4 linked regions of the Homo sapiens genome follow. The protein of the gene in region 1 purifies or fractionates together with the protein of each later gene. This does not show direct contact. Each region holds a gene or a part of one and is shown on either strand. Other genes may lie near its edges. The genes, in order: MTNR1B, PDIA6, IRS4 and PPM1G.

Region 1 (7,028 bases):
GTTAGGAAACCAGGGAGACAGGATGTAACTGAATAGAAAGGAGATTGTCTGGACAATTAGAGCGCTTGTGAGGTAGTGAGTTTCCCTGTCTCAAGATTGTCCAGCAAGTTGGATGGCAAAGGAGAATCATGACTCAACTGAACTGCTGGATTCCTACCTACTCTACTATTCACAGATTTATTTACTTCATGGGTTAAAAATGACCTCATTTCCTTTCTGGTTGGTACAGCAAGGCAAAAAATGTGCAACAAGGACCTGCTTGGGATGTGGAGGGGTTTTGTGCCTTTTAATTTAATTCTCAGCCCGCTGGCTGTCTCCACTGCTGGATCTCCATCTCTGACTCATCTACACAGACCTCACTTGGTTCCAAGAACATGAGGGATTCCCTCTCTCACATTGCTTGTCTTCAGCTGAATCAGGAACCCTTGTCTCCTGAGAATTTTATGTGTCCTTTTGAAATCTGGAGGGTTGTGCTGAAGTCAGAGAAATCTGGGATAATCTGAGTCCTGCCACTTTATGGTTGAATGAATTTGGGCGAGTTCCCGAGTTCCTTTCTTGGTGACTATTCCTACATGAGCTCCTTTCTTTTCTTTCAGAGCTCTGCCATCACTTCCCCCTGCACACTCATAGGGTTGGTTCTGTGAAGAGAATCACTTCTCTCCAGCACAGGAAGATGAGTCTCCATAGGACCCGCTGGGCACCTGGCCCAGCAACACACAAGCTCTTGGCACTTGCAAGCTGAGCAGAGAAAGTCAAGAGCTGCTGGGAGCCGGTGCCAGCTCTGCCAGCTGTTTCCCTGTGAAGGCAGAGTCAAGTTCTGCTGTGTTAATGTGGCTTATCCCCTAATAATGCCCCAGAGGCTGGCAAACAGCTTGTAAATAGTAAGAAGAACACATTCAACTCCATGTGGAAAGTGATTCAATTACTATCCCCTATTACTCTGGCTGTTCCTAAAAGGCTGAAATCAACCACTTCCTGCTATAGATTCATCTGCCCAGACATCCCACTGTCTCCAGGCTTTCTTGGCACAATTCCAAATTAGATGAATAAAATTTGTGTTTTGTCTTCCATCTGTAAGAAGCCAGGTCCTATGTGGATGATAGTCAAGGGGAGATCCAGTTCTCCATCCATTTCTTCCCCAGACAGGTGAGAAATCACTCAGTATGCACACAGCACTGCAGTCACCGTGTGCATAATGAATATTTATGTCATGGGTCCTGGCGTGACTCGTTTCCATCTGCCTCCAGCAGATAGGGTGTATTAGTGGAGAGAGGCTTTGACAAGAGGGCTTTGTTTACTAACATGGAATCCCCTTCAGGATTCATACGCAGAGCGCATCCTTTCACACACACAACCATCACAGTCTCCTCCCTCTTCTCTTCCTCTCTCTTTCTTTCTGGAAAATGTATTTCTTAATGGAGATCTGGTAATCTAGGAAAGAGCCAGCCAGTGCTGAGCTATCTAATATTCGTCAGATAGGAGAATTCTGGAAGGTAAAGCTCCCTGTAACCCTTGCCCCCCTCCTCTGTGCTCACCCTCCATGCTCAGAAGAAAAATTTGGTTAGACATAAATTCTCCTTGGTCATTGAGCTAAAAGACAAGATAGAAAGAGAGAATCATCAAGTCATTTATGTGACAAATATTGCTGAGTATATACTAGGTTCTGCCTTTGACTATGCCAGATGGACAGGCTACCTCCCCTTATAAAGTTTATGGTCTCTTAGGGAAGACCATTAAACAAATAAAAACAAGGTGCCAAGAGGGATATGTTGGGGAAGTCAACAAATGATCTATGTTTTCTAACAGTGTTAAACTTTCTGTGCCTTGAGGTCTTCTTCCACTCTTCCATCTGTTTAAATGTGTAATATATTTATTGAGTGCCTACCACATTCAAGTAAGACGCAGTGATGGATGAAAGACATGGCCCCTGCCATTGAGATGCCCATGGAACTGTTAGGGAAACAAAAGAAAACAGTAGCCATTCAATTAGGTGAGAGCTGGAAGAAAGGCCAGAACAAGGTGGTGGGAACAGTGGGGAATTTGTGAGTCAACTTGGGACTGGGGACAATGGCAGGATATGGGGTTGGTCAGGCACGACAATTCACCAAGGAGCTACACAAAATTACCAAGACTTTTGCAACAGAACTCCTAACTCCCAGAATGGCTGTTTACCTCAAATAAGATGTTGTATGGGAAAGGTCATGAGAAATAACAATAATCACCAAATTAATGTGAGATATTCTTATTATGTTCTGGGGATGGGCATTTGAAATAATTGACCATATAATTTATTCACAACTTGATTTTCAAACAAACACTAAAACAATGCATTTATTGTAAGCTTGTAATTAGATTCCCAAATCTCTTGAGAGCAGATATTTTTTTCTTCCAAAGTCACATATTTATGAAAATCTTAGGATGTGTGGATGAATCATACAAGAGCTGAGTTGAAATCTAACTTTGATTTAATTAGAAAACAAAAACTGGCTAATCAATAGTGTACACAGATATATATGGGGGTATTTCAACCACTTAAAAGAAGAAAATATATTTAAGAACATAAGCATCCATTTAAAAACATAACTAAGATGCTTTACAAAATATTCTTCAATAACCATCAAAAGAGATCATTTTGAAATTCTGATAGGTAACATTTTATTACTTTACACTTAATAGCAACAAAACAACCATTGATATAACATGGTGAAGTTGATAGTATAGTTTTACATAAATGGACTCCATTGTTTTTCACAAGAATTCCTTAAGGTTGACAGCATGATTTCTGTTTTATAGATAAAGAAACAGACACCCAGTTTGTGTGAATTGCTCATAGCCATAACACAGAAGGATTGAGAAAGAACAAGAAGAGGAGAAAACCAAAGAAAAGAAATATCAAGGGAATTAAGAGAAAGGGTGTAGAGAGTTTCTTGGTCATCTACAAAAGTGAGAAAGGACAGAAAAGTGCTCATTGGACTTGGTAGTTAGGAAGGCAGTAGTGACATTAACAAGAACAAATTCTGTTGAGAGCTTGGGGATCCAGTTTTGCCCTGGAGATTGCTCTATCAGTGTTGCCTTCAAAAGAAGGAGATAGAGAGTGGCGCTTAGGAAGGAATATCCCTTTGATAGGGGACAGTGGAGGGCTTTTTTTGCCTTTTCTTTCTCTCTTAAAGGAAAGAGACTTGAATCTGGCATATAACAAGCACTAGTAATATTAGCTATTATTTGTTATTACTGTTTTATATTATTAGCTGTACTGACAGATCAAGAAAGAGGCTCATAAGGTTGGACTGGGATCCCTGTGAGATAAGATGTGAGAAGTAGTAAGGACATGAAGATGAAGAAAGTAGGACATTCCTTCTAGATGGCAAACTCCCTAAGAACTGGGGCTTTACTTCCCAATTCTCTATCTCTACTCCTCCAGCAGTAAGTATTTTAAATTGAAAGAGCCAGTAGGAGCTTTCAGTATTCTCTGAATTTTGTGGTATATCATATCCGAATGCAGAATCCAGCTTTCTGGAGATAAAGACAGGCAAACATTAAAGTCTTTATACCCTTGAGCTACTGAAAGTTACATGGGAGGAATTAAAGAGGATTATTAGCTTTCCTGATTATTCAGCTAAAGACATAATTATGGGATTTAAAAACTGTTCATTTTTGCTCAGTGAAGAGGCAATAAGGTATTCACAGCTGAAATGCAAAGTTGGACAGCTTAAGAAACATTCAGGAAGGAGTCCAAGGTTACCCAGTTTGGTCTTGGGCTGATAATGGCACTCTAAACATTGCAGGCTGAGCAAGTCAAAAGACACCTGATGCCAAGTGACATCTCAATGAGTGGTCGGTGGTAGGATAGAAGCCTTGATGGAGTGGGCTCCACTTCATTCTATAACTTGGAGGGTAGGGGCTGTGGGCCTATTAAGCATTTCACTCTAGGCCTTCCAGAGCCTTTGTTCAGAACCATGCTGCTTATTAAGCATCATTTGCTGTCTCAGTCAACAAGTTGGAAGAGAGGAGGCAAGGAACAGGGGCCACAGTGCAGACTGTTTTCTAATCTAACCGGGGAAGCAAAGCACCTGCATAGGCAGAATATTCCCATCAGGAACCTCCCAGGCAGTTACTGGTTCTGGATAGGAGATGGTGTGAATTCTTAGCATCACTGGGGGCCTGGAGGAGGGGCAGCTTTGCCAGCATAGACAGAGTGACCTTGGACAAAGATCTGTGTGTTCAGCAAGCAAATCCTCCATGTTTTCCTAGGCAATCTTAACATCAAATAGTTCATATATTTCTGCTTTACCAATCATCAACGTACCCCAGAAATGCCAATTCGTGCACTCACTAAACCTCCCAGACAGCCTCTTTAACCCATTTGCAGCACAAAAATCCATTGTCAGACCACAGCTTCTGACTGCTACTTGGAAAATTAAGGTGGCTGTGCCTATGGAGCCAGGAATAACTGGTGTTGTTATGACTTCCTCTCTGATAGTGGAGAGTACTTGGGTGTTACAGTGAGGACATGGTTCTCTCAGCTCTCTTATATGGCCAGCATATTACAGGCAGCTTAAAAGTGGCCACCTCGGGCCAGACCAAGAAAGGGGCTGTATTAGTCTGTTTTCACGCTGCTGATAAAGACATACCCAAGGCCGGGCACAGTGGCTCACACCTGTCATCCCAGCACTTTGGGAGGCTGAGGTGGGTGGATCACCTGAGGTCAGGAGTTTGAGACCAGCCTGACCAACATGGAGAAACACCATCTCTACTAAAAAATACAAAATTAGGCCGGGCGCGGTGGCTCACGCCTGTAATCCCAGCACTTTGGGAGGCCAAGGCGGGCGGATCACGAGGTCAGGAGATCGAGACCATCCTGGCTAACACGGTGAAACCCTGTCTCTACTAAAAATACAAAAAATTAGCCGGGCGAGGTGGCGGTCGCCTGTAGTCCCAGCTACTCGGGAGGCTGAGGCAAGAGAATGGCATGAACCCCAGGGGGCGGAGCTTGCAGTGAGCCGAGATTGCGCTACTGCACTCCAGCCTGGGCGACAGCAAGACTCTGTCTCAGAAAAAAAAAAAATTAGCCAGGTGTGGTGGCTCATGCCTGTAATCCCAGCTACTCAGGAGGCTGAGGCAGGAGAGGTTGCAGTAAGCCGAGATCATGCCATTGCACTCCAGCCTGGGCAACAAGAGTGAAACTCTGTCTCACAAAAAACAACAACAACAAAAGACATACCCAAGGCTGTACAACTTACAAAAGAAAGGTTTCATTGGGCTTACAGTTCTACATGGCTGGGGAAGCCTCCCAATCATGGTGGAAGGCAAGGAAGAGCAAGTCATGTCTTATGTGGCTGGCAGCAGGCAAAGAGAGAGAGCTTGTGCAGGGGAGTTTCTCTTTTTCCATCAGATCTCATGAGACTTATTCACTATTGTGAGAACAGCATGGGAAAGACTTGCTCTCATGATTCAATTACCTCCCACCAGGTCCCTCCCACAACATGTGGGAATTCAAGATGAGACATGGGTAGGGACACAGCCAAAGCATATCAGGGGCAAACTCCCCAAGAGGAATCAGTAGGGTACAACCATGGCATGGCTGGAAACTGCTGAGCAACTTTACTCACACAGGAGAATCACAGAACAAGCATGCCTTCATGCAGAAGGTGCCAATAGTCAGCTTAACATGAGATATACTTTGGGCTGTTCTCAAAGCAGTTCAGTTTCATGAAAACCTGTATTGATTACTTATGCAGTGCTGAGTACTGTAACTGAGGTCTATCCCAGCTCATGGAGCAAAATCAATTAATTTTCCCCCACTACCTGGTGTCTTATCCATTTCCAATTTAATCAGAGATGTGTTCTGTTCTTACTATGTGTCTGGCTCTGTGGACAGAAACTGAATGAAAGTGTCTGCTCTCAGCAGGTACACGGTCCAGCGGGGAGAGACAAAGAACAATAGTACAGTGAGGGGGATGCTGTACTGGGGAGGGCACAGGTATCTTAGAAGCCCAACAAGGGAGACACTTACTATCCCCTTCATGGTATTAATAATCAACATTGATAATCCTTCAGGGGAGTTGGGGAAGGAGTTGAAGGAGGAGCAGCTGTTGACTGGGCAGAAGAGGTAGAGAAAGTACATCAGGGAGTGCAGACCCTTTGGGAAGTAGCAGCAGCTCACTGTGACACTGGTGAGAGGAGGGCAATGAGGCTGTAAGTTAGGTGGGCTAGGCCAGCCGCAAATGGCCGTGGGAGCTGTGCTCTGGAGTTGGACACTGTTCTGGAGATGGAGGGCAGCCACTGAAGACAGGGAAACTCTTGGCAGTGGTAACAGTGGCTGGGGGAGGGAGCAGGAAAAGCTCTCAAGCACTATGGATAGTGTTTGCTCAAGAGATGATGAAGGCATGAAGTGGGGCAGTAAGAATAAGGAGGCAGGAAAGGGAGAAATTGAGAAATAGTGGAAGGTAAAATCATTAGGACATGTGGAATGAAAGAGTAGGAGGAACCAAAGATGACTTTCAGGGCACAGGTATCCGGGAGATGAAGAGAAAAAGGAGATCCAAAAACTAGCACCAGGTTAGCCGAGGGAATGAAAGGTCCCACAGAGGGAGTGGCCCTCAGTGTCACACACAGCACAGAGGAACATTTCCAGAGAATGGCGCCCAGAGGACTGAGGAAGGACGGGAAGCAATGGGGTAGAACCAGTAGATGTCCACAACTACATTAAAATGTCTGGCTGAAAAGGGAGGGAGAGAGGTAGTGATGAAGTTAGGAGGACATGAAGTCAAGAAAAGAGTCTTTTGTTCTTTTAAAACAGGAGACTTTGTGTATCGTGTGTGTGTGTAACATGGAGGAAGTTTCCAGAAGAGAGAAAGGAAGAGCTCAAAAATGCAAGAGATAAATATTAGCGAGGTGTAGCTCAAGGGTCAGGGCAGCAGTGGTGAGCCCAGGAGGGAAAGTTCTCAACGGCTCTCAGTAGAGTCAAAAGTGTGGCAAGTCCCTGGGAAGCACAATCTGACAGGCGTGAGGTGCCAACCCAGTGCCAT
Region 2 (7,028 bases), on another chromosome or scaffold:
AGCTGGACTCAGGCAAGTCACCGATGACAGACAACTCTTTTACTACGATGTTGATGCTGCCACCCAACCCATGAGCTGATACTGCTCACATAAAGCAAAACCTAAGATGACAAAGTTCAGTCACTCATATGTTCCATATAAATCTTCAACAAAAACCTTTACCAAATTAGTCATAATTTCAGCTTCAAACAAATTATGCCCAATACTTTTACTAGCACTATGGATCTGGCCCAACCCAGCAACTCTGATTATCTTAAATAGAATAATCTGTTTGTGATATCTTTTTTTTTTTTTTTTTTTGAGACGGAGTCTCGCTCTGTCGCCTAGGCTGGAGTACAATCTCGGCTCACTGCAAGCTCCGCCTTCCGGGTTCACGCCATTCTCCTGCCTCAGCCTCCAGAGTAGCTGGGACTACAGTCACCCACCACCGTGCCCGGCTAATTTTTTGTATTTTTAGTAGAGACAGGGTTTCACCGTGTTAGCCAGGATGGTCTCGATCTCCTGACCTCGTGATCCGCCCGTCTTGGCCTCCCAAAGTGCTGGGATTACAGGCATGAGCCATCATGCCCAGCCCGTTTGTGATATCTTAATTAAATAACAAGACAATTCTCTAAGAGTGTGGTGCCTGTAATCCCAGCTACTTGGGAGGCTGAAGTAGGAGGACTGCCTGAGCCTAGGAATTTGAGTCCAGGCTGGGCAACACAGCAAGACTCTGTCTCTTAAAAAAAAAAAAAAAAGAAAAGAAAAAAAGAATAGTGTGGCTGAAATAACATTTAGTCTTGGGAGGGTGAAACCTGAATTCTTTCTTTAGTTGCCTCAGTGGCTCACAGCAGACACTAACAATTTACTTATCTACAAAACAGAATTTGTGGTATCCATTTATTATTGACAGTTTAGGAGACTAAGACTCTCAAATTACAGTCTCCTTTTCCATAGTGTTATGTTAGACCCTTTTCCTACAGTAAAGGGAAGAGAGATTAGAGCAAGAAAATACATGTAGATCTTTATTAAATACAAGTGACTGTAATGAGAAAGACAACAGGGTAGCACAGAACACTATTTTCTATCATTGCCAATGTAGCATAGACCTAAGCAAGCGTTAAGTGATGAGACAAACCTGTGTGACACATATTTCATCTTCAGAATGACTCGGAGGGTATAGGAATCACTGTGTACCATTTATAGATAATTCAGGTACAATGAGGTTGAGAACCTTGCAGGTAGAGCAGGTTCTCAAGCTTGTTAAAGAACAGTAGGTTCTTGTCTACCAGGGGAATGAAGTAGCTAGGAAAAGTCCTTACCTTGGTAATCTTCTGGTCTGTTTTTGTTGGATCCAAAAATCTTAATGGTAGGAAATCCCTGAACACCATACTGACCTCCTAGGGAATGATGCTTATCTGCATCAACTGCACCAACTTTGACAACATCCTGTGGAAATGTAAAAGAAATAACAATTTTTCCTTCCGCTAAAGCAGACTCCACAAGAACTCATTATCTGCTTCACATAGACTCAGAAAAAGGTAATAAAGCACAGGGTGCAGTTTGCAATCAGTCAATAAGGGCTTTAGCCTTGAACACCAGAAGAGAATCTAAATGGAATGATGGGGGAAATCAAAGCCCATGGAGGGAACTCTGCAGCTCACAGAATTGGCAGGGCTGAGAGTAACTGTCATTTATCTGGGAAAAACAATAAACAAAAACAGGCAATGTAAACATTTAAATGTGTATTATCCCCTTGTTCTCAGTATGATTTTGACAACAGAACCAGTATTTTCAACTCTGATATGCAAACTAGCTTCCCATTGAACATTAAACCATCTGCATACTTATTACTTAAACATACACAGGTGAATATGGACATCTTAGAAACTTACTGTAAAAAAAAGTTTTGTAAGCCTTTTGCATTCCTAAGAAACTTACTTTTAATGCAGTTGCTGCTTTCTTCCATTCTGGTGTTAATCTTTGACAGTGACCACACCTTTTGGGGGAAGACAACACAAAGCAACCATTAAAGCCTTTGATTCTCAATTCAAAAAATTCAAAAATTCAATTAAAAAACCCCATCAATGGTCTATTGAATGAGATGCCTGCAAAGAGGACAAGCACAAATAAAACAGGATCAAGGCCGGGCACGGTGTCTCACGCCTGTAATCTCCAGTACTTTGGGAGGCCGAGGAGGGAGGATCACTTGAGGTCAGGAGTTTGAGACCAGCCTGGCTAACATGGTGAAACCCCGTCTCTAATAAAAATACAAAAATTAGCCAGGCGTGGTGGTGCACGCTTGTAATCCTAGCTACTGGGGAGGCTGAGGCACAAGAATCACGTGAACCCAGGAGGCAGAGGTTGCAAGAGCTGAGATCATGCCGCTACACTCCAGCCTGGGCAACAGAGTGAGATTCTGTCTCAAAAAATAAAAATAAAAATAAATAAGTAAAATAGGATCAGCAACCTGGATGAACTCACCATTTTATTACTTACAACAATCACTTTTCATATCATCCTAATAAAAAAGCTTCCAGCCAGGTGCAGTGGCTCACGCCTGACTTTGGGAGGCCAAGGCAGGCAGATCACTTGAACTCAGGAGTTAAGACCAGCCTGGCCAACATGGTGACACCCTGTCTCTACTAAAAATACAAAAATTAGCTGGGCATGGTGGCACACACCTGTAATCTTAGCTATTGGGGAGGCTGAGGGAGGGGAATCGCTTGAACTCGGGAAACGGAGGTTGCAGTGAGCTGAGATCGTGCCACTGCACTCCAGCCCGGGCAACACAGCAAGACTCTGTCCCCCACCCAAAAAAAAAAAAAAAAGCTTCCGAATTACTGCTCAATTAAATCACATTTAAACTCTATAATTTACAACTCTACACCCTCAACAAGCCCTTTAGAATCTATCTGGTCCAATGTGCTTCACTGTGTGGAGCTGAAAGCCTAGGCACGATGCAGATTCTTGGGGTCCACAAACCCAAACTTCCTAGTGGAAGAAGTGCATTTTATTAAGTTCTGCTAGTGATTCTTAAACCTACTGGGGTTTGATAGTCTCTAGTCCAACTTTTTAATTTTATATATGAAGTATCTGGCCCAGATCAACTATGCCTATATCTCAATACTTTCTGGGTCCCGCAAATTGCTTCTGGACTTAGAAACACATGCATAAACCCACGTTAGTGAGCCTAACAAGCCGAAAAGCATGACGTGACACCACAAGATGGCGATGTGAGTGAATGACTGAGGTGGGGGGAGGCAGGGAAAGCGGAAGAGAGTGGGGAGAGGAGGAGAGAAGAGAACACAAGGAAAAACAACCTTAACCTTGCAGGTACTATTATTGGGAAATACAACACAGAAAAGCGCTTTTAAAAAATTACATGTGCGTAAACCTATTAGCCCTTACCACTCATTGAGGTTGTAGGTAGCTATACTGTTTATTTTTATTGCTGTGTAACATTCACTGTATGCAGACACCATAGTTTATCCATTGGTGATTTAATGCATTTTTAAAAACAAAGTAAATTCTCTTCTAATTAGGTCTCTAAGAACCAAATGCACAAATGCTAGGTGCCAGCACCATGATGAAAACACTTATAGATGACTTCATTTAATCAGCATGAAGCTGAGGGCAGGTCCTCTTGTTATTTCATTTTACAGATGATGGAATTGATGTTGAGAAGAAATTTACCCAATATCACAGCCATCCAGTGTCAGAGCTGCCTGACAAGTTTTTGATTCCAAACACTACAATCATACAGGTAGAAGTCGTAATTATTATGTAACTGAGTATTGGGGCCTAAACTCAATCCCAGTATCTGAAGTTAGGGTCTATCGGGGGAATGTCCTGAAATGCTACTTCTACATATTTACATACAGTATGTTTTGTTGTTTAGGTGAGATACTAAAAAATTCAGAAGTCAGATTTTTACAGGGTTTTGTGCCTCTTTAATTTCAGTTTAAGAAAGGAGGACTAAATTCAGAGACTGTCAGAGTTCATCCTCTCTTCTATTTGATCTGCACATACATCATAATGCCACATACATATAAATATGGCATACAGTCTACCCAGGGGTTCTGCAACTGGGGTCCAGACTCCCAAAGGGCTGGTGGATAAAAATTTTGGGAATCCCTTTTAGGAAAAAAAAGAAAAAAAAAAAAAAAGAATAAATCTGAAGCCAAGGTGGCCTTTTAGGAAAAATTTAGGGGAGGGAGTCTATGAATTTGGATGAAAAAAAAGTCTTTATTTTCACTAATCTGTAATCGAAATTTAGAATTTCCTTACGAATGTAAACAACACTCCACAGTCAATTATTGTGACTTTATCATGAATGAAAATCACAGCTGTTTTCATGATCGCCACTATAGTTGCTGCAGGTATCTTCAAACATCATTTATGCCCATCACTATTCAGAATTATTGCAGCTGTCAAGCCTGCTGCTGGATCTTGGTACCGGTTTAGCATCTCTATTCTAAAAACCCACAACCTGAAATGTTCCAAAATCCAAAACTTTCTGAGCGACAACATGACACTCACAGGAAACAGTCACTGGAGCATTTCAGATTTTGTATTCTCAGATTACGGATGCTCTACAGCTAAGTATTATGCAAATCTTCCAAAATCTGACAAAATCCAAAATCAGAAACACTTCTGGTCCCAAGCATTTCAGATAAGAGATGTTCAACCTGTACTTACTGTTCTTGTAAAGTACTACATTAACATCAAAATTTTAATATTTCAATAATCATATTTCCATACTTTAGGTTTTTTTTTGCGATTCTATAAGCTTTATTTAAACGTGAAGGTTTGATTTTGATTTTTTTTTTTAAAGGAGATCTTTTTTTTTTTCTTTTTTTGAGACAGGCTCTCACTGTTGCCCAGGCTGGAGTGCAGTGGCACAATCACAGCTCACTGCAGCTTCTACCTCACAGGCTCAGGTGATCTTCCCACCTCAGCCTCCTGAGTAGCTGGGACCACAAGTACACGGCACCACGTCTGGGTAATTTGTTTCTTTTCTTTTTATTTTCGTAGCGATAGGGTCTTGCCACATTGCCCAAGCTGGCCTCGAACTCTGGTGCTCAAGCAATTTACCCACCGTGGTCTCCCAAATTGCTGAAATTATAATCGTGAGCCATCATGCCTGACCGTAAAAGTTTTATTATAAGAATCCAAGGCCTTCACCAAGATGCTAAAGGAATCCAAGCACAAAAGGAAGTTAAAAAGCACCTGCCTGACCCAGTGCAGTGGCTCACAGCTGTAATCCCAGCACTTTGCGAGGCCGAGACAGGCGAATTGCTTGAGCCCTGGAGTTAGAGACCAGCTTGGACAACATGGTGAAATTCCGTCTCTATAAAAAATACAAAAATTAGCAGGGCGTGGTGGTACATGCCTGTAGTACCAGTGCTGGGGAGGCTGAGGTGGGAGGATTACCTGAGCCTGAGAAATCAAGGCTGTAGTGAGCCGTGATCATGCTGCTGCACTCTAGCCTGGGAGAAAGTGAGACCCTGTCTCTCAAAAAAAGCGCTTGCTCTAATCAGACATTCAGTCACCCAAACACCACAAAGTAAAACTCTGCCAGTGTAATAATGATTAACTAGTGGATCTAGATCCTGCCTTCTCAATTATGCTGTCTTGCAGAGTTTTCTCTTGTATGGTCGCTCTCAGAAACAAGGTAAATTACCTATGCCATATATGATAAGCTTGTAAAAACCACATACAGAGACGTTTAACAATACAACAGTTTGTACAATTACTATTTATGTATTTGCTAGTATAATTGAGCTAATCCACACAGAATTAGCATTTGGACTGAACACATATATACCAGAGCCTTTAAAACAGTAAAGGCATTAGATGGACAGGACGCACAATGTGGCAACATCCACTTTGAAAATAGAGCGTTTTTACCTCCATTTGCTACACTGAGCATGAAGTAAAATGGTCCATGAGGACTGGTGGTTAGTTTCTAAAACTTAGTTTCAAAGAAAAAAGTTAAAGTGAGAAAGGAAAAAGTTTCATCAGGCATACCCTAAAATGTACCCATCAGGTTCTAATATCCCTCACTTAAGCTTACAAAGCCTTGTTCACATGTCAAAGGACTCCTTGGGATTTCAGATAACCACACAGTTCTTCACAGACACACAGCTGGCTAGGGTTTGGTTCTCCTCTCAGGATACTTGTGGCCTGCTGGTTTACAGCAGAGACAGCCTCATATACATCTTGCACAGTTTCCACTCTTCTATTTGGTGTTTTTTTGCATTAAATGCTTTAATCACACAAATAACTAGTGCAATGTTGTACTTTTGACTGTATATAATTTTGTGCTGTTAGTTTCAATGGTGATTACATTTTTACCCCACAAGGGTTCTTCCAGCATTGAATGTAAGGTAAGAAAAGAATTTTTAAATTAAACCAGATTTTCTAACTACATTTTTTCAGGAAATAATTCTCTTCAAGAAACAGAGTGAAGTTAATCACTGGCCCCTCCATTTTCTTTGCTCAAGATTCCTTCCTCATAAAAGCAGTTTTCCTTCCACACGCATCACCTCATCAAAAGACAGATCTTCCTTAACAACAGACTAGATACTTTGCATTTCCCATTTCCCTCTTCTCTACTTCTTTTAAACAAACACTAAGCTAAACTAGATGTCTTAATAAAATCAGATTTTTATACAGCGTTTTCTCCAATTTCAGAAAGTACTATAAATAATCTACAACTATTTTATAATACTTACCATGGAGCATAGAATTCTACAAGCCACAAACTATCACTCTGAATAACTTCTCGGTTGAAATTCGATGGAGTTAATTCGATCACATCATCACTAGAGGAATACAGACCATTCACTGCCAGAAAGAAGGTACAGCTCACCAGACCTGAAGATAAAAACAAAAGTGCACCATTAACAGCACTGTTCATGCTTTGACTGGAAACCCTGGGGAACCAGAGTCCTCTTTAACTGACCAGGGCCCTTCACACAGGAGGACGGCCTAGCTCTGGCCCCTCTGCCCTTCCTGCTGCAGTTGGAGCCCCTGGAATTTCA
Region 3 (7,028 bases), on another chromosome or scaffold:
AGTCTGACCAGCAAATGTGATTTTTTACTCTTGCTTTTTAAAGTTTTATGCCTCCAGTCTTGAAAGCTTACCAACCTTGTCCTCGCACTCAGAGTCCTGTGCCCCCACCCACCTCCATGATGAAGTCCTTATTGTTGCTGCAGCTTTTACCATAGTTTCCCTTCGGCTGTCACCCTGCCTCCGACTCTTCCAACTGGTTGAGTATGGGGGACACAATTCCTATTGCCATGGCTGGAAGACATATATTCCTGGAGTCTCAAACTGAAACTTCACATACATCTTCCCTCAGAAATGATGACTGGGTATAGTCAAAATAGTTCTCTGTTAGTTCAGGAGTTGCATAGGTTAAATATAGGCATATCTAGACAAAGCTATAAACCTATCCACCATTAATTTATGACATTGTTTCTACAAGATAATTTATTCTGAGTTTCAACTAAACAATGACCTTGGAATATGTCTGTTTTGTAAATTTGAAACTGCCTATATTAGAATTCTAGTAACTTGCATTCTTTAAGTTGGCAGTAACTAGGCAGCAGAGTGAAGTGGCCCATGTGTGTGTTGGGAAGTAGTGGAGAAGCTGACCTACCATGAAAATCCTGTAGCTGATCTCCATAGAGTTTGTATCCAGATACTCAAGACTGGAATGCACATGCATAAGTGGCCCAGGGCCTGCTAACAAAGGGCAGGTGTAAAACGATTGAGCTGACCTTTGAGGAGATGGGGGTTTACAAGTGTCATACATTTCCCTTACAGATTCTTTTGAGCATTCTGTCCCAAAACTATTGCCATTGTGGGAACAAAGGTATTTTATCATCCGATCTATGAAGGAGATAATAGTCTGGTATAATTGGTGTTGTAAAGACTAGCAGCGATTATTACTAGTTTTTAGCCTTGAGCAATAGCACTTAATTTTATCAAGTCCTAGAGAGTCATCCTCCTCTACAATCACAGGGCACAGAAAAGTATGATGATCCTTTCTTATTGAGAAAAAACAAAAAAACCTACATATACTCCAGAGACAATGCTAAGCTAACTAATATAATTGCATTATTATACATTCATCTTTGGCATGTATGCTTCAACATATCTTTCTTTGCTTCCCTTTTTTTTTTTTTTTTTGGTGCTTTACTTGGTTGCCCCTGCTTATGTGAGCTCCAGTTGATCACAGGGGTGCAGGGATAGCATGTTGTCAAATGAACAGAGTGAGGAATTTGCAAAAACCCTTGAAAAACATTTTTGAGCTCCAGGAAAATTGGAGCTGAAAAGATAACTAAGACAATAAGTTTGCAGAAAGGGAAAAGAGAATGAGAGAATAACAATATATTGTTATAGGTTCACCTTTCTCTGAGCAGAGGAAATACTGCTGTTTCGGACTTCAAAATGTAATAGAGGCATATTTATGATTCATATAAAGAGGTCTGAAATACCCTGGAGGAACTGCCTACTTGGCTCACCCTACAAATTTCCAGGGATATTGAAGTCATCTGTGCATTATTAGCGTATTAAAGATTAATGTTCAGGTTTATATCATTATATAACTCGAAACAGAAAAGTTTACTTCATTTGTTTTTGAGAAAAAAAAGTTCCCTGCCAGATTTTGGTAGGAGGAGTAGGGAAATATTTTGACTCATCAGAGTCCACTGAGGTTTTCTATATTACAGAGAAAAATTACCTGAAGAGTATACCACCCATTAAAAAGGGTGAAATTAACTTGTTGTTTAAAAGACCTTTGATTAATTGGGAAAATAAGAATATACAATAAGGTAAGTATTTATAACCTGTCAGTATCAAATGGGAATAATACATCCAAAACAGACCACATTATTACAAGCATCACCATTTACCTTGCTGATGGTGAAATCACATAAAAATGAACGGGAGACAAATCTAAGGTATGACTTTTAGCCCTTTAATATTCATTTTGCAGACTGTTCACAACCAAGTTTTAATCTCGAATTGCTTTCCTTTGCCACCCAGCAAGCTTCTGAGTTGCTTCCTTACGCTGTTCTTTGGAATGTGCCCCGGGAATGTAAACTCATTTTAATATTGGCCTAAGTAAAATAGGATTATAAAGGCAAATCTGTGGCTCAAGTTCCCATAATGCATTTCAAAAGCAAGTTAAATTATTTTGGGATTATCCTGTTTGGGATAACATTATTCCTTTCTACTAGCATAGTTAATCAAGAATTGACAAATGTATTTTGTGAAGTAAACATGAAATTACACAATTATTTGTCACTTTTTATTAAGTTACCAAACATTCACTTAATGCTGGTGTAGGTGTTATAGGAAAGCAATGGCAATATGAATCAAATTTTAGTAGAGGCTCTGTCATTTAAAAAAAGGAAAGAGAAAGAAAAACAACTCCAATAAAAGCAAATGTTCCTAATCTTAGTATAATGCCAATAGGGTAGTTATATGGAGCTTAATTTGCAGGTTTCTGGGAAAATATATATGAAATCCAGTGTATCATATAAGACAGCAAGAAGTCCCTTTTAAAGCACATGCAATGTGCTATATATGGACATATGAAAATATTTTTGGTATTAAAACAAAATAGTAAACTAAACTAGGTGAAATACCTTCCTAACCTTAAATATCTATTTTAAAATGTAGCTGATATCTGATAACACTGTAATACTGGTACTGGTCTAGCCTAATTTTGCAGCGAATTAACAGTTACTAATATGCAGTCTCACAGTTAACTGTGGTTATCACAGACTCCTTTCTTCCTGTGTAGAACTAGATACATAAAATGTAAAATTTCCTAAACCCACTGCTGACAGGAAAGCTTAATACCTTTACTAATCTATGGCATTTTTTTGAGACAGGGTCTCACTCTGTCACCCAGGCTAGAGTGTAGTTGCGCGACAGGGTTTCACCATGTTGCCCAGGCTGTTCTTGAAATCCTGGCCTCAAGGGATCCACCTGCCTTGGCCTCCCAAAGTGCTGGGATTATAGGCATGAGCCACCATGGCTAGCATTTTTTTAAACTTCTAATCTACAAGAACAAACCTATACATTGAATCTTAATGAAGAGACACAACTAGTAAGAGGGAAATGTACTGTTCCCACTCAGTGCTTCATCCAGCTGCAAATTTGTTACATTTTAAAAATCCTTGAGCCCAGGAGTCTGGGTGGGGCTGCAGTGAGCCATAATGATGCCACTGCTCTTCACCCTGGGCAGCATAGTGAGACCTCATCTCTTTAAAAAAATTGTAAAACCTTTGATGAGAAAATGAATACTTAAAATGTATATTTCCAGTTTAATAGACAATCTTGTACTTGAAGCCCACTCTGGGGGATGTTTTCCATGGATTCTTTTAAGATGTCTCAAATAAAATAGAATACTTGGTACTTTGTGGTGACCTGATCTTAAGGTAACACTGGCATCCCATAATCAATTTGCTGATCATTTATTCCTATCCCTTCTCTGGTCCAGCACCTTCTTCTATGTATCTGATCACCCCCTGCCACACTCCCCATTATGCACCCACTCAAAAGCAGAAAGCCAAGAGAATAATGCTGGAACTTTTTTCTTTTATTAAACAGATGGGAATTTCAAGTCTCCTTTGCAGGTATGACTTTGTTCTATTAGAAGAAATTCAATGATTGAGTCTAGAGACCATCACCAATGCTGTACTTAAATCCTATGACTTGTGCCACATAACCTGGTGAAGGCAGAGTCAAACATGTAGAAGAAGAAGAAAAAAATCTGTTTCTCTGCACAATGCCTGGCTCACTCTTGGGCTCCACTGGAAGAAAGTAGAACAGTGCACGCACGTGCAAAGATGCTGTCCACCAGAAATGTCAGTGACAGCCTGGGGGCAAGAAGAATAACTGCCCTTGTGTCTTTGCCCAGCTGATATTCCTCACAGGCAGCCAGCAGAGTTGATTAACCATGTCCATGCCCAGGCAGTCTCCTCTGTATATCTCTCAAAAACTTCTAGTTAGATTTTGTTTTGTTTTGTGTTGTTTTGTTTTAAAACAGGGTGGGGGTGACAGCTCTCCACATTAATTCTGCAAGTAACTTTTGTTTTATTATCTTTTTCCTAGAGTGATTATATTGCCACAAAAACACATTTTAGAAGAAAAGTGATGCTTATGGAATTTTATCTTCGTCTACTCCAGATCTGCCTAAAGGAAAGAAAACTCAGAGGCTTCTGAGTAGAAAGCAACCCAAATTTCTACAAGCCTACAAGTGGACTCTGGCAATTGAATGATCCTATTCATGCAGATCATTCATACTGCTGCTTATGGATCCAGTGATTTCTAATTAACAATATTTACACTGTGCTTTGTTTTTTGTTTTCTGGTTTTCCTCCCCAGTCTGTCCCTTTGAAAGGAAACAGATACTATACAAGTGAGCATCTCATAACTCTTTCCCTCTTTAAAAAAAAGTAACTTAGAATACATATAAATTTGGTCAATGCCAATTTTAATAATGTAAAATATTTAGATTCAATTTTGAAGTTGAAAAACTTTAAACCAGGGCACATAAAGAAAAAACAGCTGTCATAATTGGAAGGAAGGTATGATCTGGAATCTTTTTTCCGAGTATTACACACACAAAACATTTCTTGATCAATGAATTAAATGTCAACTGAACTGATATCTTGATGGGGCATTACCAGTATTTTAAAGGCAGGACTAAAGGGCAGATTATTTCAAGTTTTGCTCATTAGCAAAACTGCAACATTCTGCTCATGTTATATGTCAATGAAACTAATATCTTGATTGAGCATTTCCAACATTTTAAAGGCAGAACTGAGAAACAGCTATTTGTTCACATACAACACTGTGATGTTCTGCCTGAAAATCGATTGAGTATTTCCAAACCTATTATTTTTCATTTATTGTGAAACCTACATTTACCTCCTAAAAGAAACAAAGCTCTTCAAAAGTCTCTTCCCAAGGCCCCTCCCTGCTTCTCTGGGCCTCTCCCCACTTTCAACCTCTATTCTACTTTTTCTTATTCTTTCTCCATTTTCCCCAATGCACACTCTTCCTCTTATGCCCATGGCTACTATAAAGAGATCAATTTCCCATATTCAAGAAATTAGTGTTTACTTATCAATCAATATTCTGACAAAAACTTAAGCCAAAAAGAACCTCTTATAAGGCCTTGTTTCCTTCTGGATATTGAGCCAATATAAGATGTACCAAATTAAAAAAAAAAATCAGAGCAAGCTCCCCCCCGTTCTATTTTTGCTTGCCTCTGATGTAAACTGAATTAAGATTTTAGGTACCTGGACCTTTGAGAACGTGACACTAGCAAGGTGGTGACCACAGAGAATAGGTACAAAGGTCTTGAAGCTTGCTTAGAGCTTTGTTCCGTGGTGGCACACAAATCTTGGCTTGCTGTACCATCATTGGCAAACCTCATCATATCACAGTTGGGTGTGTTTGTATGTGTGTGAGCACTAGTGTGTGTGTGTACATATTCGTGTGTATGCACACTTTGTGTACCTGTGTACATGTGATTGTAGATGTACCTGTTGTGTGTAAACTCTGTTAAAATGAAATTTGCTTCGCATTTAATGTGCAACTTTGAAGTAGTGTAATATTTATCTAAAGGTTTTCACTACTTGGTTTTAATGTCTTTGAACGTGTACTTCTATCTTCAAGCAAGCTTATAGTACGTGTTGCTAAACTAACTTTTCCAAAGAACCGAGTTGACTTCTATTTTTCCTTGCCTACCAACCAAAGGGATGGTGGGCTCTTTTTTCCCTCTTGTAAATTGTGCTGAGGAGAGGACGTGGCTATGAGATCAGTCATTGTTCCAGTTACTGGTCACTGCTAGGGCATCAACTTTATCAGTTCCTTCAGACTCTTCTCTTTTTCCAACCTAATCAAATAACGCAGTGTGGCTTTTGTTCATTATAACAACGCGCTCTTTAGGCAACTTTTTTTCAAGCCTTCTGTCACCATTTTATTTTTTCAAGTAAGTTAAGTAATAATTGTTCAGAATTGTGGGAAAAAAGATTACTTGGGGGAAAATACTGTATCACTTTATTTGCATATTAGGTTCAGAAGCTGCCAGCAGACAGGGTACAGAGGGTACAGCACAGATGTAACAGTTGCTGAATAAATGAATGAGAAACCTCATACACAGTAGTACGTATTATACAAATAGTAACAGGTACACATAGTCACAGGTACTGCATAACAAATGCAATCTTGTTCTCATTATTTATTAGTTTACAGACAATTAATTTATTCAGTATTGTGCTGGAAGAATCTTTGTGGAATATGTTTACCAACTTATCACTTACCTTCCAGCTATCAGTTCATGCTGCTAAGAAAAAACAATGATGGAATATTTTTGTGTGTGTGACCTCTACATTTAATTTGATATCAGGCATAGTCACTTGGTCGTTAAAAACTGAAACTTTACAGTTCCACCAGCTAATTACATCTGCTATTTCTGCTTCACAGATATGCTTTGAGTTGCTTTGGCTTTGTCTTCCTTTGTAAATACTCTTGTACTTTCTTTTCCTTGTAAACATCTCGTTTGCAGTTTTGGGAGACGACTTTGCAACTCTGTATAGTGTTTATATATATATGTATATCTATATATATCTGACTTGCCTTTCCATACAGCTACTCACAATAAATGTGTTCATGTAAATTATTCCTGTAGAGATTCATTTTTTAATACTATTGTCTCTACTTTATTATAAATATATTTTCCTGCTTTGTAGTAGGATTGACTGCATTTTTCAGAATGAAACAAATGGGGTATTTTAGGGTTTGGGCTAAAGGTACTTTGCCTAGAAACATGAGGCTTTTCAATAGAGTCAATAAAGTCAACTCTTGATTTTTCAAATGTAGAGGTGATACTAGTGTAGAACAATTTATAAAATGACTTACCTAAAATTTCATGCAGACCTTGGATAATGAGTGAATCCTATATTGAAGCAACTACTCAAGGAGGTTGAGGTGATCATTTACTTTTTTTTTTTCTGTCTCCTTCCCTTGACACTTAATCTTGCTCTTTAAATTACTCTTTTTTTTTTTTTTTG
Region 4 (7,028 bases), on another chromosome or scaffold:
CAGGAGAATCGCTTGAATCTGGACAGAGTGAGATTCTGTCTCAAACAAAAAGTTCAAACATCATTAGCCATTTAGCCATCAGAGAAATACAAATCAAAACTACAATGAGATACCATCTCACACCCACCATTAGTTATTATAAAAAAGGTGGATAAGTGTAGTGAACATGTGAAGGAACTGGCATCCTCATATATTGCTGGCAGGAATGTACGACGGTACAGCAACTTTGGAAAACAGTTTAGCAGTTTCTCAAAATGTTAAACACGTAGTTACCATATGACCCAGCACTTCCACTCTTTGGTATATAACCAAGAGATATGAGGACATATTTCCACACAAAAATTTGTACATAGTATCACTATTTATAATAGCAAAAAAAAAAAAAAAAAGTGGAAATCCAAAATGTCTATCAACTAATGAATGGATAAACAAAATGTGACAAATCCATACCATGGAATATTATTCAACCATAAAAAAGAACGAAACACTGATTGATTCATGACACAACATTGATGACCCTTAAAAATATTACGCTTGGCCGGGCGTGGTGGTTCATGCCTGTAATCCCAGCACTTTGGGAGGCCGAGGCAGGCGGATTGCCTGAGCTCAGGAGTTCGAGACCGCCCTGGGCAACACAGCGAAATCTCGTCTCTACTAAAATACACACAAAAAATTTAGCCGGGTGTGATGGTGGGTACCTGTAGTCCCAGCTACTCGGGAGGCTGAGGCAGGAGAATCGCTTTAACCCAGAAGGTGGAGGTTGCAGTGAGCTGAGATCGCATCACTGCACTCCAGCCTGGGCGACAGAGGGAGACCCTGTCCCCAAAAATAAAAAATTAAAATTAAAAAATTATGCTTAGGCACAACTATGATACATCAACTGAAAAATATCAGGCTGGGTGTGGTGACTCATGCCTGTAATTCCAGCACTTTGGGAGGCTGAGGTGAAAAGATTCCTTGAGGCCAGGGGTTCAAGGCCAGCCTGGACAACACAGTAAGACCCTGTCTCCATGAAAATAAATGAATAAACAACAATAATTAAAACTGACCTCCTGGAGATAAGAAAAAGAGTTAACTAGGAGATAAGAGAAAATTCAAGAATTGTTAAGTCATTAATTTGAGATGGAGTTCTGGGTCTTTTGCTTCCCTTCCATCAACTAAGTGAGGAAGGTTCCAACAGAAACAAATGGGAGTGCCTAAAAGAAAACTAGCATCTCTTTCCTGGTTACACAGGCAACAGACTTGGTGATCTGCCTGAGCTCTGTCTATCTGAACAGAAGGAGAGAATTTTAAAAAGTGCCCACTGGAGCCTGAACCATCCTGCTGGTATCCATCCAAAGGAGTCCAGCAGTATGAGGTCAAGGATACACAGCAGGTGGTAAAAGCCACAGAAAAGTCTAAAAACCAAAAGTGGAGATCAAGTCCCTCTGGGCCAGGCCTGGCTATTGCTGCAAACACAGAGATGGTGAGTGATAACTGGATATGAGACTGGAGTTTTAAAGAGATTTCTGATTCTATTAAGCTCTGTAAAATAAAACCTGCAAGGCACTGATCTAGAAAGAAGCAAAAGAACCTTGGGTCAGCAAAATACTTATTCTTAAATCTACTACAACAATGTATGTGTGATTTTTTTAAAAAGAAACTTACAGGCAAAGCTGAGGGGTAGAGGGAATACTTGGGGTGGAGAGTAATTTACTCTTCCAGGGGCCAACAAGCTTTAAAGTCAATTTCAAAAATACACATGCTTAGTAAAAGCATCCAGATATAAAAGGTAGTGTATTTAGAATTCCATTTATAAAATGTTCAGAATAGGCAAATTCATAGAGGTCATGTAAATTAGTGGATGCCAGGGGTTAGTGGACGGAAGATAGGGAGTGACTGGTAAAGAGTACAGGGTTTCTTTTTGGGGTTCTAAAACTGATTGTGGTGACAGTTGTACAACTCTGTTTGAATACACTACAAAACAGGCAGGCACGGTGGCTCATGCCTGTAATCCCAGCACTTTGGGAGGCTGAGGCAGGCAGATCACTTGAGGCCAGGAGTTCGAGACCAGCCTGGGCAACATGGTGAAACCCTGTTTCTACTGAAAATATAAAAATTAGCTGGGTGTGGTGGCGTGAGCCTGTAGTTCCAGCTACTCAGGATGCTGAGGCAAGAGAATTCGCTTGAACCTGGGAGGTGGAGGTTGCAGTGAGCTGAGGCTGCGTCACTGCACTCCAGCCTGGGTAACAGAGCAAGACCCTGTCTCGAAAAAAGAAAAAAAGAAGAAAAAAAAGAAAATATACTAAAAGCCACTGAATTATACCCTTAAAATGAATGAATTATACCCTTAAACCCACTGAATTATACTCTTAAAGTGAGTTCATATACTGTATGGTATATGAACCATATGTGGTATGAACCATACAGTATATGAACTCTATCTCAATAAAGCTGATTAAAAAGGAACCTGTAAGAAATAAATAAAATAAAAAGGAACCTGTATACACATTTTCAAATACTAAATATGATTAAAAGGTGTTGTTTTTCTGCTAGCATTGGGTCAAAAAGGAAAAAAAAGTTGATATACTTCATCTCTGAACTAGATCTAGAAAGAAACAAAAACAACTACACTGAAATCATACTCTGTCTACAAAATGTCATTAAACATCTTAAGCTCAGTTCTAAAGATTTGTTTCCAGATAATACAATGTCAAGAACTACTGATCAGACCTGTATAAATTTCTATGTTCAAATTCAAGCCCTTACCTCTCAAAATTCAATTCTAAGACTAATAACCCAATAGAAGATTAGAGGTTAGGGAAACAGTAGTAACAACTGCTAAGGAATCAGACAATAGAACTTTGTGTAAAATATCCTTGAAATCTTGAGGAATACGTTCTGATTGTATTTTCCAGTTGCTTGAGAACTTATAAGGCAATGGTATAAAATATAAAATAATTTCTAGACCAGGCATGGTGGCTCACACCTGTAATCCCAGCACTTTGGGAGGCCGATGTGGGTGGATCACGAGGTCAGGAATCGAGACCATCCTGGCTAACATGGTGAAACCCCGCCTCTACTAAAAACACACACAAAAAATTAGCCAGGCGTGGTGGCGGGCGCCTGTAGTCCAGCTACGCGGGAGGCTGAGGCAGGAGAATGGCATGAACCCGGGAGGCGGAGCTTGCAGTAGCTGAGACCGCGCAACTGCACTCCAGCCTGGGTGACAGTGTAAGACTCCATCTCAATAAATAAATAAATAAATAAATAAATAAATAAATAAATAAATAAATAAAATAAACATAAATAAAATTCCTCAGCCTGGGCAACACTGCAAGGCCCTATCTCTACAAAAAAAAACTTAAAAAAAAAAAATTAGCCAGTCATGGTGGCATGTGCCTATATTAGGCTGAGGCTGGAAGACCCCTTGAGCCCAGAAGGCTATGCAGTGAACTATGATCGAGCCACTGTAAAGGCAGATAAGTGTAGTGAGGATGTGAAGGAACCGGCACAAGAAATCCCATACTCCTTACCACTCAAGCATGGGCAAGAGTGAGATCCTGTCTCAAAATAAATACATAAATAATTTAAAAAATAAAAAGGCCGGGCACAGTGGCTCATGCCTGTAATTCCAGCACTTTGGGAGGCTGAGGCGGGCAGATCACTTGAGGCCAGAAGTTCAAGACCAGACTCGCCAGCATGGGAAAACCCCTTCTCTACTAAAAATACAAAAAAGTTAGCTGGGCATGGTGGCGAGTGCCTGTAATCCCAGCTACTTGGGAGGCTGGGGTAGGCAAATTGCTAGAACCCAGGAGGCAGAAGCTGCAGTGAGCCGAGATGGCACCATTGCACTCCAGCCTGGGCAACAAGAGCAAAACTCCAACTTAAAAAAATAAAAAGAAAATAGTTTCTCCATGCTCATGGGCATACATGTGATATAATTCTATACTAGCTTTGAACTGTGAATGGGTACTGCATGCTAATCAAATGCAAATAATGCGTTTTTATAAAAGTTGCTAACCACATTCTAGACAAAGAAATTCTGGCCAGGCGCAGTAGCTCACGTCTGTAATCCCAGCACTTTGGGAGGCGGAGGCGGGCAGATCACCTGAGGTCAGGAGTTCAAGACCTGCCTGACCAACACAGAGAAACCCCATCTCTACTAAAAATACAAAAAATAAGCCAAGTGTCGTGGCACATGCCTGTAATCCCAGCTACTCAGGAGGCTGAGGCCGGAGAATCACTTAAACAGAAAGGCCAGTGAGCCGAGATCACACCACTGCACTCTAGACTGGGTGACAGAGACTCTGTCTAAAAAAAAAAAAGAGAGAGAGAGAGAAATTCTGACCTGGTTTAGTAAGTAAAAAGCGCTTTAAGCTATTGGCTATTGATATGAGATGCTAATCTGAAGATAAGAAAATAAATGTTTTTCAACCTTCAATGCCCTAAGGTAGAACCCCATAGCATACTTGTGATATTTCTTTTTATATTTTTTCCATTAATTTAATGACTGAAACAAATATGCAGGTATTTTAAGAATTTTCTGCTCAATACTATCTTTATAGTCAATTCTAGATGACCCCTTGACCACTAATAAGCCAGCTTCTACACAGCAATAAATAGCCAGCCTCCTCAAAATTATACTATAGATATTGACACTGCCTTTAATAAAAGGAAAATATGATTTATAGCACAAAAAATTCCTGGCCGGGCACGGTAGCTCACATCTGTAATCCCAGCACTTTGGGAGGCCGAGGCAGGTGGATCACAACGTCAGGAGTCTTGAGACCAGCCTGGCCAACATAGTGAAATCCTGTCTCCACTAAAAATACAAAAAAAAATTAGCTGGCCTGGTGGCAGACTCCTGTAATCCCAGCTATTTGGAAGGCTGAGGCAGGAGAATCACTTGAACCCAAGAGGCGGAAGTTTCAGTGAGCCGAGATCAAGCCACTACACTCCAGCCCGGGTGACAATGCGAGACTCCGTTTCAAAAAAAAAAAAAATTCCTAACTCTCCATAGAAAGCAGTTTTGTCACTTCCAGAGAACCTCACAACCAAATATTAAATGTACTCTTGTCCCCTTAAGACTACATCAACTGATGGGCCAGGCATGGTGGCTCACGCCTGTAATGCCAGCACTTTGGGAGGCCGAGGCGGGCGGATTAAGAGGTCAGGAGTTGGAGACCAACCCGGCCAACATAGTGAAACCCTGTCTCTATTGAAAATACAAAAAATTAGCCGGGCATGGTGGCAGGCGCCTGTAATCCCAGCTACTCGGGAAGCTGAGGCAGGAGAATCGCTTGAACTCAGGAGGCAGAGGTTGCAGTGAGCCAAGATCATGCCATTATACTCCAGCCTGGGCAACAGTGCAAGACTCCGTCTCGGAGAAAAAAAAAAAAAAAAAAGACTACATCAACTGAATCTATTTTCAGATTTGACTTCTTATTTAGCCAACAAAAACTCAAGGGCCTTACCTTATAATTTTTCAGGCACCCCTCCACAACCTACCTCATTTTTTTTTTTTTTTTTTTAAGATGGAGTCTCACCCTGTCGCCCAGGCTGGAGTGCAGTGGTGCGATCTCGGCTCACTGCAACCTCCGCCTCCCAGGTTCAAGCGATTCTCCTGCCTCAGCCTCCGGAGTAGCTGGGACTACAGGCGTGCGCCACCATGCCCAGCTAATTCTTGTATTTTAGAAGAGACAGGGTTTCACCATATTGGCCAGAATGATCTCGGTCTCTTGATCTCGTGATCCGCCCACCTCGGCCTCCCAAAGTGCTGGGATTACAGGCATGAGCCACCGTGCCCAGTGCCTACCTCTTAATCCCAAAGTACATACCTCATCCACTTTTTTCATGGAGAAAGGAGGAAGGAGGAGAACATCAACTGTGGTGGTTTTTTTGTTTGTTTTTTTGAGACGGAGTCTGTCACCCTGGCTAGAGTGCAGCGGTGAGATCTCGGCTCACTGGCCTTCCTATTCAAGCAATTCTCTGGCCTCTGGCTAATTTTTGTATTTTCAGTAGAGACGGGGTTTCACCATGTTGACTAGGCTGGTCTCGAACTGACCTCAGGTGATCTGCCCCCCTCGGCCTCCCAAACTGCTGGGATTACAGGCGTTAAGCCACCACGACTGGCCTGTGGTATTTTGATTACCTTTTCTCAAAACACCCTGGTTGCTGGGCATGGTGGCTCACAGCATTTTGGGAGGCAGAGGCGGGCCGATCACCTGAGGTCAGAAGTTCGAGACCAGCCTGACCAACATGGAGAGACCCCCATCTCTACTAAAAATACAAAATTAGCCAGGCGTGGTGGCACATGCCTGTAATCCCAGCTACTCAGGAGGCTGAGGCAGGAGAATCGCTTGAACCCGGGAGGCGGAGGTTGCAGTGAGCCGAGATCATGCCATTGTACTCCAGCCTGGGCAACAAGATAGAAACTCCGTCTCAAAAACAAAACAAAACAAAACAAACAACAACAACACCCTGGTCACACAGGAAGAGAAGCTTGAAACAGGCAGAAAGTAAAAATGCCAGCTATTGATGATTGCCATTTTTGTCTCAAGAGTCCTCTCTACGGCTAAATCTATCCATCAGTCAGCATGTCAACAACCTTTAGTGGTATGATAACCTTACCTCAAATGAAGCATTAGGACCAAGCAAATAGGGTAAATAAACTTTATTAATTTTTGGATTAAGCCCTAAAGCTTCAGAGGAATGGGAGTACTTTATATTTTCTGGAAAGATAAGATTCAGGGAAGAGGCTAGAACTCATAGTTATTTTCTTGCAATAGCAAAGAAACTATGCTACACTTTGAAGAGAAAAAAAGCCAGAAGGAACACTATCAATGAAGCAGAATAGGATCCCAAACAATACTCTTCAAGAGGATTTGATTAGGCATATTTAACTATTGATTAGGCATATTTATTCAAACAAGGGCAACTTCAGAAACAGCACATTAGCAAGATTTTAATACCCTAAGCAGTTATCTCTCAGGAGGAAGATTAGGATGTAAGGAATAGTCTAGTAAGATCTCTACACACTAAACCGT

Evidence for each region.
Region 2: the proteins of MTNR1B (region 1) and PDIA6 purify together in Homo sapiens (tandem affinity purification; 2 studies listed by IntAct). This does not show direct contact.
Region 3: the proteins of MTNR1B (region 1) and IRS4 purify together in Homo sapiens (tandem affinity purification; 2 studies listed by IntAct). This does not show direct contact.
Region 4: the proteins of MTNR1B (region 1) and PPM1G purify together in Homo sapiens (tandem affinity purification; 2 studies listed by IntAct). This does not show direct contact.

Annotation. Positions count from the first base shown.
Region 1 is NC_000011.10:92,972,645-92,979,672, reverse strand, and holds part of MTNR1B (melatonin receptor type 1B), read right to left. Parts: intron 2,515-7,028; exon of another isoform or gene 1,983-2,514; coding exon of another isoform or gene 1,886-1,982; intron 1-1,885.
Region 2 is NC_000002.12:10,795,780-10,802,807, forward strand, and holds part of PDIA6 (protein disulfide-isomerase A6 isoform d precursor), read right to left. Parts: intron 6,862-7,028; coding exon 6,720-6,861; intron 1,979-6,719; coding exon 1,921-1,978; intron 1,429-1,920; coding exon 1,302-1,428; intron 1-1,301. UniProt on the Homo sapiens protein: May function as a chaperone that inhibits aggregation of misfolded proteins. Negatively regulates the unfolded protein response (UPR) through binding to UPR sensors such as ERN1, which in turn inactivates ERN1 signaling.
Region 3 is NC_000023.11:108,719,555-108,726,582, reverse strand, and holds the end of IRS4 (insulin receptor substrate 4), read left to right. Parts: exon of another isoform or gene 1-3,555; coding exon of another isoform or gene 3,556-3,581; exon of another isoform or gene 3,582-4,059; coding exon 4,060-4,064; coding exon of another isoform or gene 4,065-4,170; 3' UTR 4,171-6,637; downstream 6,638-7,028. UniProt on the Homo sapiens protein: Acts as an interface between multiple growth factor receptors possessing tyrosine kinase activity, such as insulin receptor, IGF1R and FGFR1, and a complex network of intracellular signaling molecules containing SH2 domains.
Region 4 is NC_000002.12:27,399,579-27,406,606, forward strand, and holds part of PPM1G (protein phosphatase 1G), read right to left. Parts: intron 1-7,028.